Linked DNA regions of Homo sapiens. The protein of the gene in region 3 interacts with the protein of the main gene of each other region in a pairwise test. Each region holds a gene or a part of one and is shown on either strand. Other genes may lie near its edges.

What was found.
Region 1: the proteins of PEBP1 (region 3) and STK38 interact in binary tests that used the Homo sapiens proteins (3 or more experiments, as listed by UniProt).
Region 2: the proteins of PEBP1 (region 3) and TNFRSF19 interact in binary tests that used the Homo sapiens proteins (3 or more experiments, as listed by UniProt).

What each region holds. Positions count from the first base shown.
Region 1 is NC_000006.12:36,545,834-36,549,433, forward strand, and holds the start of STK38 (serine/threonine-protein kinase 38), read right to left. Parts: upstream 1,647-3,600; 5' UTR 1,357-1,646; intron 1-1,356. UniProt on the Homo sapiens protein: Serine/threonine-protein kinase that acts as a negative regulator of MAP3K1/2 signaling. Converts MAP3K2 from its phosphorylated form to its non-phosphorylated form and inhibits autophosphorylation of MAP3K2.
Region 2 is NC_000013.11:23,671,331-23,675,155, reverse strand, and holds part of TNFRSF19 (tumor necrosis factor receptor superfamily member 19 isoform 2 precursor), read right to left. Parts: intron 1,785-3,825; coding exon 1,776-1,784; coding exon of another isoform or gene 1,637-1,775; 3' UTR 1-1,636. UniProt on the Homo sapiens protein: Can mediate activation of JNK and NF-kappa-B. May promote caspase-independent cell death.
Region 3 is NC_000012.12:118,133,801-118,137,625, reverse strand, and holds the start of PEBP1 (phosphatidylethanolamine-binding protein 1), read right to left. Parts: upstream 1,503-3,825; 5' UTR 1,417-1,502; coding exon 1,282-1,416; intron 1-1,281.

The DNA.
Region 1 (3,600 bases), on a different chromosome or scaffold from region 3:
AGGAACTGATCCTCATAAAAGTCAGGTGTAAGGCCTGCAAACTCAAAAGGAAGTCAAATGAAAACCATTATGTGATTCAATCTATATGGTTATGCCTGGCTAACTGACTGACTTTACAATGGTACTCTGTGATCACTATAAACAACCCTCTCTCAACAATATGGACTTTATTTCTTTGCGACTGACAATCCATTATCTTTCATTTGGACGATTCAACATTGGAGCTAAGATTATTGCTTAAGTCGCATGTCTAATCTCTCCCACTGAACTGTAAATCCTACTAAACTGTAATCTCTACCTACACTAGAAAGCAAGCACCATGTCTTATACTTGTTTTAATATTCTTCCCCCATTTCATGCACAGTGCTATGCACTTAGCACCTTAAGAAAGATTAACTAGGAAATATACTCATTTTTGATGTCCATTCCTAGGAGTTTATGTGTGATGGGGGATAGGGCTGGGACATGAAATGGTTTGCTATAGCGTTCTCTCCTCTTAGGAGGAAGCTGGTATCTAACGTTTAGGGTGGGGAGGAGAGCCTGTTATCGAGGTGGTGGTTGTTTTATGTTTAGGGAAACCAAATATATTGCCTGGCTAATTCAGAGGCAGGGTGAGCTCAAAGGGTGGAGACACTCAGGGTCTACTTCACTCCAACCCTCCTCGGTGCATTTCAAACAGAACAAGTTTCTCTCCGAGTCTTTTAGTCGTTTCAGAATGAACTGAGAGATCTGGTCTCTCTGCCGGCCGTTCTGCCCGCTTTCTGACACAGACTTTCCTCTAAGCCCTTACCGACTTTTTCCTCTGGCTGTTGCTTTTCCACTCTCTTCTTAAGAATTTTCCCTGCCTTTTCCTGTGATTTGAAGCTTATCTGAAGCCCAGTATCCTAAGACTAACGGAGAAAGGAGCCGACTCAAAGATACCACACCCCAAGGGGGGCTTTCGACATCTCTGCCTCAGACCACAGTTCACAGACCCCAGAAGAAGGAAAAGGAGATAAAAACCGGTGATGACCGAGATCCCTGAGGGACTGACTGGTGGCAGGGAGCAGACAAAGGTGGCAACATGGAAAGGAAAGCCTGGCTCCCGCTCCAACTGCAAAAGGAGAAAGATAAAGGATGGGGTGGAAAGGCTGGGACTGGAAAAATGTGGAGAGGGCCAACAAGGGGCATCTGGAGACGGGGGAAGAAGGGGGTTAAGGAGAGGGGCGGAGAGAGGCCAAGAGGCTGAGAGGTTAGGGCTTGAAAGAGGGCGCCGGCGAGCAGGAGAAAGCCCAAGAAGGAGTCGGAGGTTGGGGAAGGAGGAGATAAAGGAAAAACCCCGGGATGGAGTGAAGACGGCGGCAGCAAGCAACTCACCAGAGCCCAGGGAGAGGCAGGGCTGGGGACGGCGGAGAGCCGCAGACGCCCCTTCGGCCAGTAGTCTCGACTTGAAGGCTGGCGAAGCCCCGGCGGCGGCAGCCAACGAGCCAAAGACGGGAGGGGACGCGTGAGGGACTCTGAGACAGGGGGCAACAGGCGGTTACGGGTGAGGACAACAGGAAGCGTTCCAACTGCCGGAAAAGACGCGAGCGCTGAGGGGCCAAGGCAGCCCGGTCCCCCGCCGCGGAGACGGGCTGGCGCGGCAGCCCGGGGCCGAGACTACGCATGCGCGACTTCCCGGAGCGGCCGGGATTGCGGAACTGCGCTTGCGTGGCCCCGCCCTGCCCCTCCCTTCACCCCCTGCCTAGGGCTGGCTGGACCTGGGTGAGGCCAGATGTGTGAGTGTGAGGCGGTCTCGAAGTAGGCTGGGCTGAGGGGGAAGTTCCATTGTTTTCTTTTGTTTTACTTTTTACTTCGAAATAATTATGGACTCACAAGAAGTTGCAAAATTAATACATACAGGTTCCCTATACCATCACCCACCCAGCTTACCTCAACATTTTTCTTAAGATACAACATTCTCAAAGCCAGGAAATTGACATTCGCACAATACAATTAACTAAACCAATACAATTAACTAAACCAATACAATTAACTTCATTACAGACCACACTCGGATTTAACCTGTTGGGTATGCAGTCATGTGCGTGTGTGTGAGTGTGTGTGTAGTTCTATGAAATGTTGTCACCTGTATAGTTCCCACCCACCCCCCTACCCCGTGTAGAACAGGTCTGCTGGAGCCCTTGGCCCCCCTCCTCTTCCTTAAAGTAAGGACCTTACCTGGGATAAGGTGAGCTCTCATAGGTTTGGGAGGTTACCCAGCGGGCGACCCAGTGTGGACAGAAGAAGGTGCTTTTCAAGGCCACCCAACTCTTATTCTGTACTACTTTTGGGGGTAAAGAGGTCCCAAGTTTAATAGCCTTTGGGCACTTGTCGTTTCTTGAGAATGGAGCACAAAGCCCTCAACTACAAAGTGTCAAGCTCCTGGAAACTAAGATGAACGAGACATGGTCCCTGACTGCCTGCAAAGGGGCCATCTAGGGAGAGAAGGAAGCATGTGCTGCGAGTTATTCATTCATTTCATCTTCAAAGCCCAGTTTCCTTTTGTCTAGCCTCTTAACAAAAATCACTTCTCGCCAGGCGCGGTGGCTCCTGCCTGTAATTCCAGCACTTTGGGAGGTCCAGGTGGGAGGATAGCTTGAGCCTAGGAGTTTGAGACCAGTCTGGGCAACATAAGGAGAATCCACCTCTAAAAAAATTTTTGTAATTGGCCAGCATGGTGGCAAGTGCCTGTGGTCCCACCTACTGTGGAGGCTGAAGCAGGAGGATTGATTGAGTCCAGGAGTTCAGGGCTGCTATGAGCCATGATCATGACACTGCACCCCAGCCTGGGCAACGGAGGGAGACCCTGTCTCAATCAGTCACTACATACATATCAATCAATCACTTCGCCTTTCATTCTCTCTGCCCAGAGGCCCTTCTCCCCAAATGCCTGTTGTCAAAGTCCTACCCATTCTTAAGCTTTTAATAATAGTCCAAGATGTCTGCATAATGCTTTACAGTTTACAAACAACTTTCACTTATTTAATCTCACTTGGTCCTCACTTTGGCAGTGACACACGAGGTTTTGCAGATGAAGTAATTGATACTTAGAGAAGCTAAGTGACTTGTCTGAATTCCCACGGCTAGTAAGCCAAGTAGCCAAGAGGGGAACCCCATTTTCTGTCTGCAAATCCAATGTTCTTTCTCCTCTTCTCTTTCCTCCTTCCAAAGCCCAGCTCAAACCTTATCTTCCTCCTGGAACTTTCCCAGTTTCAGAAGAGGAATTTCACTCTCTCTTCTCTCTTATATATATGTTTTTTTTGGTGGGGGGAGGGGGGTTGTTTTTGTTTTGTTTTGAGACGGAGTGTCGCTCTATCACTAGGCTGGAGTGTAGTGGCACGATCTCGGCTCACTGCAACCTCCACCTCCCAGGCTCAAGTGATTCTCCTGCCTCAGCCTCCTTAGTAGCTGGGACTACAGGACTACAGGCACGTGCCACCATGCCCAGCTAATCTTTTCTTCTTCTTCTTCTTCCTCTTCTTCTTCTTCTTCTTCTTCTTCTTCTTCTTCTTCTTCTTCTTCTTCTCCTTCTCCTTCTCCTTCTCCTTCTTCTTTTTTTTTTTTGAGACGGAGTCTTGC
Region 2 (3,825 bases), on a different chromosome or scaffold from region 3:
AATATTTTACATGTCCAAAAGGCAATGTTCCTAAGAGTTCTTGACTACCAAAGGATCATTGGTTTATACTTAAAAAAAGAAGTAATACAGGAAAAGTCAATTAATTATGACTAGGCACTAGGTTGACATGACCGCTTGGGGCTACAATGAAACATTCTCATTTCCTATTTCAGGTGAGGGAATTGAGGTCATGAGATGTACCAGACACAGGCAAGCTAGTAAACACATATCAAAACCTAAAACTATGGAGAAACGGCCACAAGAAAGAGGGCTCATTAAATTTTACTAATCTGTCACAAACAGAGAAAACCATGGATAATACATGAGAAGATAAAAACATACTAGGAAAGACAGATACATTTTAATATTCAGTTTAAAAGTTAAAAGACAGTGACTTGGGCAGGGCAATTCCAAACCAAAATATCATAGTACCCTCGAACATACTGATGTTCAGAAGTCTAAAAAATATGCCCTGTTCAAGTAGGTCTTCTCCAGGGCATAAAGATTAAGAGTAAATGAACCATTCCCTGCTTTGTGACTGAACGGGGTTAATTTCTGTCTTAGCTCTAGAGACAATGCTAATGTGTAGATGGTAGGGGATGGAGCACTTTAATAGAAAGAAGCACCGTCCTCTTAAATCCAACACCGGATGGCTAAAGTAGGAGATGATGTGCTAACTAATCTTACACAATTGGAAGGAGCACGACAATGTCCTGGTCAAACTACACTAGGGCAGTTACAGCTGCTTCATCCAAACCCCTACAAATTGTGCATTTTCTTCTAGTCCTAACATGTGGTGTGTTCTCACGGAAGGCTACTTCAGTAGTAGGGGAACCTGATATGTTGTAATTTCTAAAGCCTTTAGTATAAGATACAATGCAAGTAAAAGGTCATTTATGTTTATAAATACCCTTTTTCTATAACCTTCTAAGCTCAGGCAGAGGGACAGATGCAACAAATGTTTCTATAGCAACTAATTTTCATATAAATATGCCAACCTTTGCATACAAGTCTCTACAATATGTGTTAATTCTGGGCAATGGGCTGCCCTTTCTCGACCACATTCCCTAGCCCAGGTGTTCTCCTGAGATCAGCGGGTGTTCATGAGACCGAGGCTGAGGTCAGAAGTGTGGATTCTGGAAAGAGCTATCCTCCTCTGTCTGATTCCTCTGATTCAGTAAACTTCATCTAATAAACCCAAGATTTAGGCAGGCAATATGAGGGCCATTCTAACCACCTATGCGAATCAGTTTAGATGATGAAAAAGTGTCCTTCTCAAATAGAAACACTCACTTTTGAACCCATTCTACATAAAAGCTAAGGTAATTTATCTGATATTTCATAGGCGGTATGAAATTATTTCTGGAAAGAAAAAGTATACTCTGGGTCTTCAGTCTTGTAAAACCACAATCACCATGAAAATAAGCATGAGGGCATTTCTGTTTCTTGTTATATGTCCACAATCTCATAGGCTGCCAGCTCAACCCATCCGTCTTTGAAGTCACTTTTGTGGCAGAGAAGCTTCTCATGTAGGAAAGATGCAGAGTATCATGAGTCGGCCTGGAGTCTTTTCTTGTTATTCATTGAGGTTTCAGCTTACAGCTGGTCTGGCTCAGAAGCAACTGGCTGAAAGGCTTCAAATGCCGTCAGTTTGGTTCAGATTTATTTTTGCCCCAGAAGCCATGCAAGGTCCAGACTGCTCAGTCCATAAGCCTAACAAAGGAGTACTCTTTGGGTTCCAGCACACGCTTCTACTGCAGAAAGAAGCAGGTTCTTTAAGCTTCCTAAAACAGCAACAGAAAGGAAGCTTTAGAAATAATGTCTTACAAGTTAAATCTGCTAAATTTCAATGGTAAAGAATTATTATGCATAACTTTTACTAGTAGTATACATGGATATAATAATAGCATATGGACAAGAAACTCATTCAATAGTATCCAAATATCCAGCTACCCATGTAATCTCAGGATAAAATAAATATTTTCATAACAATTCGTAGTCACCCAATAACTGCAGAGTACTTAAAAGATGATACCGTAACCCATAGCAATCATAATGTATTAACAACAATTCTTTTGTGGGCTTTCAACCTTATTCAAACATTTAAAGCTTCTTTCTTCTATACTGTGTTCCTTTAAAGCATTTGTAGGTAAATATTTTAGGATTCTGTATTTCCTTTCTTTCAAAGAACAAAGATGAATGAATAGTACCATTCTTTATCTGCCAACTTAGTCTTTGAATGTACTTCCATTAAACTATTAGAGAATGTTCAGAAATAGTTGGGAATAAGATTTCTCTTATAACAATCTCCCTAGCATACTCACAGTCCTTATCGGGAGAATATCCTCAGCAAAGTGTAGCCATTAGACGTGTCCTCATCACAAAGGGCACTGACGTCAATGCCGGGAAGGGGACAAGTGAAACCACTGAACATTAATTTCATGTATTAACCCTTCACTAACTTACCACTAATTTGGCATTGGTGACATACCAGGTTAAGTGTATGCAAAAAAATTATTCCTAGGTCTAAGGAGATTATTTAGAAGTAAAATCTTATGAAACACTTCCAATAACAGGAGATAGTTTTATCAAATATGTTGATTAACTGACATGATTATAATAACTACATGAACCCTTCTGTGGGAGGCAAATTATCCTCATTTTGCCAATAAGGAAAAAGTAGACATTTCAATAGATTGAAACACTAGAACCCAGGGTCCTCTCATATGTTTTCTAACCTTCTTTCTGTCTGTTCCTGTTGACATTTTAAATGTTGCATTAAAAACAACTTCAAGATATGCTTTTCCTGTAGGTAAACAGGCTGGCTTTGTTCTCTCAAATATCTCAGCAAAAAATGTTCCAAATATCTCAGTTTTGTTCCCTTCTGGAGAGATGTGTATAGGAAAAACTTGATTAAAATTGAGTCATACAAACTAAAGAAGGCTCTCACACCTATTTGCTTTATCTGGAACCATAACTATCATCAGATTATGGGTCATCTTAAATCACCCACAAGAAAACTAGTGTGTGGAAATGCAGGTTGTGTAAACAAATGCATCATGCGCTGAAATCATGGCCTTACACCACGTAAAGACAGAAGTGCTGTTTGGCCACAGCTGCTCCTTTTCCACCTCCCAGATGGACACATGTTGTTTTCCTGAGCTATGAACGAGCCCACATCATGGAGCCAAGCTAATTGAACACAAACCTGTGGAATGGATAAAATTAACAAGAAGCCCTGTGCTTTGGTTCATAATAGTGAGCTGCTGAAATCAAATTATTTTATTTTATTTTTTAAGAGACAGGGTCTTGCTTTGTTGCCCAGGCTGGAGTGCAGCGGCGTGATCCTAGCTCACTGCAGCCTCAAGCCTCAAACTCCTGGGCTCAAGTCATCTTCCTGCCTCAGCCTAAAATCAAATTCTTTATGAGATGTGAATGTGTCCTCTAGTTGGAAAATTAGCCTGTTGGGGGAAATGTGGGTTGGAATTTAGATTGGGAAAGAAAAACAGAAGCAAAACTACTTGAGTTAAACACTTGGTTGGACCTTGAAATAAAGAGGAGGACCAGGCCCCCAAAGGCCTGAAGTAGCTTAAGGTTCATTTGCTACATTTCACAGATTAGTAAGTGCAACTAAAGTTTTTTTTTTTTCCAGCATCTGGAAATGATTATCTCGTAAAATGGGCTCAAAATATTATTCACTATTATAGGGGAAAAATCAAAATGGTTTATATTTTAACGCTTCCTTTTTTAAATTCAATGTCATACTTAGATTTACCTAAATTAATCTAACAATTATAGGGCTACACATCTTGAAAAGTTAGTAAA
Region 3 (3,825 bases):
TAAAATCAATGACCCTGTATTGACTGTAAGAGCCAGGAGCTGGAGTTTTATATACGTTATGTATTTTATTTGAGACCAGGTCTCCTTCTGTCACTCAGGCCGGAGTGTAGTGACGCTATCAAGGCTCACTGTAGCCTCAACCTCCAGCGCTCAATCGATCGATCCTCCCACCTCAGCCTCCTGAGCAGCTGGGAACTACATGCTCACACCATCACACCTGGCCAATTTTTTTTTGTAGAGTTGGGGTCTTGCTATGTTGCCCAGGCTGTATATTATTTCAGTCCCAACAACACCATGGGGCTAGTATCCCAGCACACTATTAAGAGAAACAGATAAGGCTGGGATTCCAACCCTGGCACTGAGTCCCCTCTCAACGACACCCTTACATTGTCTGTCCGGAATCACAGCGTTTCTGGATTTGGTGATCAGGAGGTTACCTGGAGCCTGCTGAAGTGAAATCTGCATTAACTGTACGTTTCAAAGTGCAAAGAAAAGGAGAAAGCCAAGGTGATGAGAGGCGGGCAGGGAGCAGGAAAAGGGAGGCTGTGTTAGATGGGCACTACATATTTAAACATCCAAAAAAATTAAATTCTGTGAACATCCAAAACAATGTAAGGTCGGGGCAGTTTATTTTACGCTGTTGCCCGGAGCTTCATAACCAACTAGCAGTGGCGTCTGCAAATCTAGTTTCTTCACTTTCGGCAGCCCCAGCCGTGGGCGTGGGAGGTCAAAGACCAAAACTAAACCGTTGCCCTCCAGCGTACCGGCTGGACGCTCTCGACCCATTTAACAAAGGAGAAATCGGCCGGCGCGCTCATCGCCAGTTACATAATGCGTCACAGGCTCTCGGGTGAGGCTTCAGCCCTCCAAAACCAGGCCTAAAATGCTGAGGCCCTAGGGGAAGCTCTGGGGGCGTCCGGGCAGCCACAGCCTACTCTGTCCCGGCGACGTCCCTCTCCAGCGCCCTGGCCTGTGGGGGGAGAGGGGGATCCGGCCTGTTTCCGAACCTAGGTCCCTCTTGGGTCTGAAGCCCGGGAAAAGTGAATGAATTTCTGCCGCAGGCCGAACCTGCCTGGCCACGCCACAGGCCGGGTTCCCGGTGCTCGGGGTGGCCCCCAGGCATGGGACATGGACCCCGGGACCTCTGGCCTGGGGGGGCCTCGACACACGCAGGCTGAACCTCCCCACCGCCCCTGGCCCTGTCTCCGCTGGGTCCCACCCAGGAGGCCGGCACAGGCCTCCGCGCCGTGCCGCTCGCTGCACGCCCGCCGCCCGGTGTACCTGGGTGGGCGTCAGCACTTTGCCCAGCTCGTCCACCGCCGCCCCGGCGTAGGTGACATGCAGCGGGTGCTGCGGCTGCTCGTCCACTTCTTGCAGGCTCAAGGGCCCGGACCACTTGCTGAGGTCCACCGGCATGGCGAGGCCAAGCAGAGCGTGCAGCCGGGAGTGCCGCGGTAGGCCAGGCGCGGGCGACAGAGGCGACGCGGAGAGCTCAGCACACTGGCTCGGGAAGACGCAGACCCAGCGACCACGCGAGAGCACGCGCCTCAGCCGCCGCCCAGCCCCGCGCACCGCCCCACGTCACGCCCACCGCTCCCTGGCCTCTGATTGGCCGAAGCTGGCAGAGCAGGGCCTCTCGCGCTCCTGGGTCCATGCAACCTGCTCCCTGTGGCTGCCGAGTTCTCGGGAACAGCGGCTCGGCCTGCAAGGCTGTTGTTTCAAGAAATGAAAATGAAGGGCGCCCTGGAATAGGTTCGCCGAAGAGAGAGGTTCGTGTCTCAGAAAGTGTCGCTGGGAAAAAAAAATGCAATTGAATTCGCCTTGGTTGCGTTTTGGTTTTCTTAATTTTTTGCATGATTCTTTGCTCCACTTTCCAAATTCAGCAACATGGCCTGTCGCGGTGGCTCATGCCTGTATTCCCAGCACTTTGGGAGGCCAAAGCAGGAAGATCGCTTGAGCCCAGGAGTTTGAGACCATCCTGGACAAGGTAGCAAGACCCCGTCTTTACAGAAAACTTAAAAAAAAAGAAAAAAAGAAAAAAGCCAGACACAGTGGTGCATGCTTGTAGTCCTAGCTACTCCGGAGGCTGGGGCGGGAGGATCACTTTTTTTTTTTTTTTTTTTTGAGACGGAGTCTCTCTGTGTTGACCAGGCTGGAGTGCAGTGGCGTGATCTCGGCTCACTGCAAGCTGCGCCTCCCGGGTTCACGCCATTCTCCTGCTTCAGCCTCCCGAGTAGCTGTGACTACAGGCGCCCGCCACCACGCCCGGCTAATTTTTTGTATTTTTAGTAGAGACGGGATTTCACCGTGTTAGCCACGATGATCTTGATCTCCTGACCTCGGCCTCTCAAAGTGCTGGGATTACAGGCGTGAACCACCACGCCCGGCCGATCACTTCTTGAATCTAGGAGTTTGAGGCCGCGGTGAGCTACGATCTTGCCACTGCACTCCTGTCTGCGCTTCAGAGCCAGATCCCATCTTCTCATACACACACACACACACACACACACACACACACACACACACAGCAAATTCAGAAACAGTAAGGCCTTGCTTTTCTCCTGCACTTTAAAACGAGCCAGATTCTCTGTATTTTCGCACGTGATCACTTGTCATAGTAATTGCCTGGTGAGAGCACCTGAGTGAACTTTTGAGCATTTAAATATATGGGGAAATGTATTTGTCCGTTTTCTCCACACACAAAATTCGTCCTCACAAAATTCCTGAGAAATGTTTGGGTTTTGGTTTTTTATGTTTGTTTTTTGAAAAACAATTTTAAACCATATTTATTCATACCAAAACTGCTCTTACTGTGACCACAAGCTGCTTGCTTTTTGCTGAATATGATAAGCACTATTTTTTTTTTTTTTTTTTGAGACGGAGTCTTGCTCTGTCGCCCAGGCTGGAGTGCAGTGGCGTGATCTCAGCTCACTGCAACCTCTGCCTCCCGGGTTCAAGCAATTCTCCTGTCTCAGCCTCCCGAGTAGCTGGGATTACAGGCAGGCGGCACCGCGCCCAGCTAATTTTTGTATTTTTAGTAGAGACAGAGTTTCACCATGTTGGCCAGGCTGGTCTCGAACTCCTGACCTCATGATTCGCCTGCCTCAGCCTCCCAAACTGCTGGGATTACAGGCAATAAGCCACCGCGCCCAGCCAATAAGCACTATTTAACAGTTCTTATCTGTTTTGACTCTTGACATTGATAATTCCTCCCATGGAATAAAAAGTTGTCTCTTGATTTACATTCTTACTAGGAAATAATACGAGTTCATTGTAGAAAATCAAAGAAAAAAACCCAAAGAAGTAGAAATCCCCTTCTATCCCACTACTTTGTTATAAACGTCAGTAATCATTTAGGGTATATCTTTCCTATTTAAAAATAATATGAGTATAGATGATTTTGTTGTTTATTCACCAAAAGATTGCATTATATCCTACCATTATAAAATAGTCATATCAAAAATAGGTCGTCAGGCCAGGTGCGGTTGCTGAGGCCTCTAATCCTAGCACTTTGGGAGGCTGAGGCAGGAGGATCACTTGAGTCCAGGAGTTTGAGACCAGCCGGGACAACATGGTGAAACCCCATCTCTACAACAAAATACAAAAATTAGCCCGGTATGGAGGGATGTGCCGGTAGTCACAGCTACTACCAAGGCTGAGGCAGGAGGATCACTTGAGCCTGGGAGTTTGAGGCTGCAGTGAGCCGTGATTGTGCCACTGCACTCCAGCCTGGGCGACAGAGTGAGACCCTATCTCTACAAAAATAAAGCAAAATAAAAAAAGTCTTCAACATTTTAATGACTTCTCTAGATGCACCATCATTTA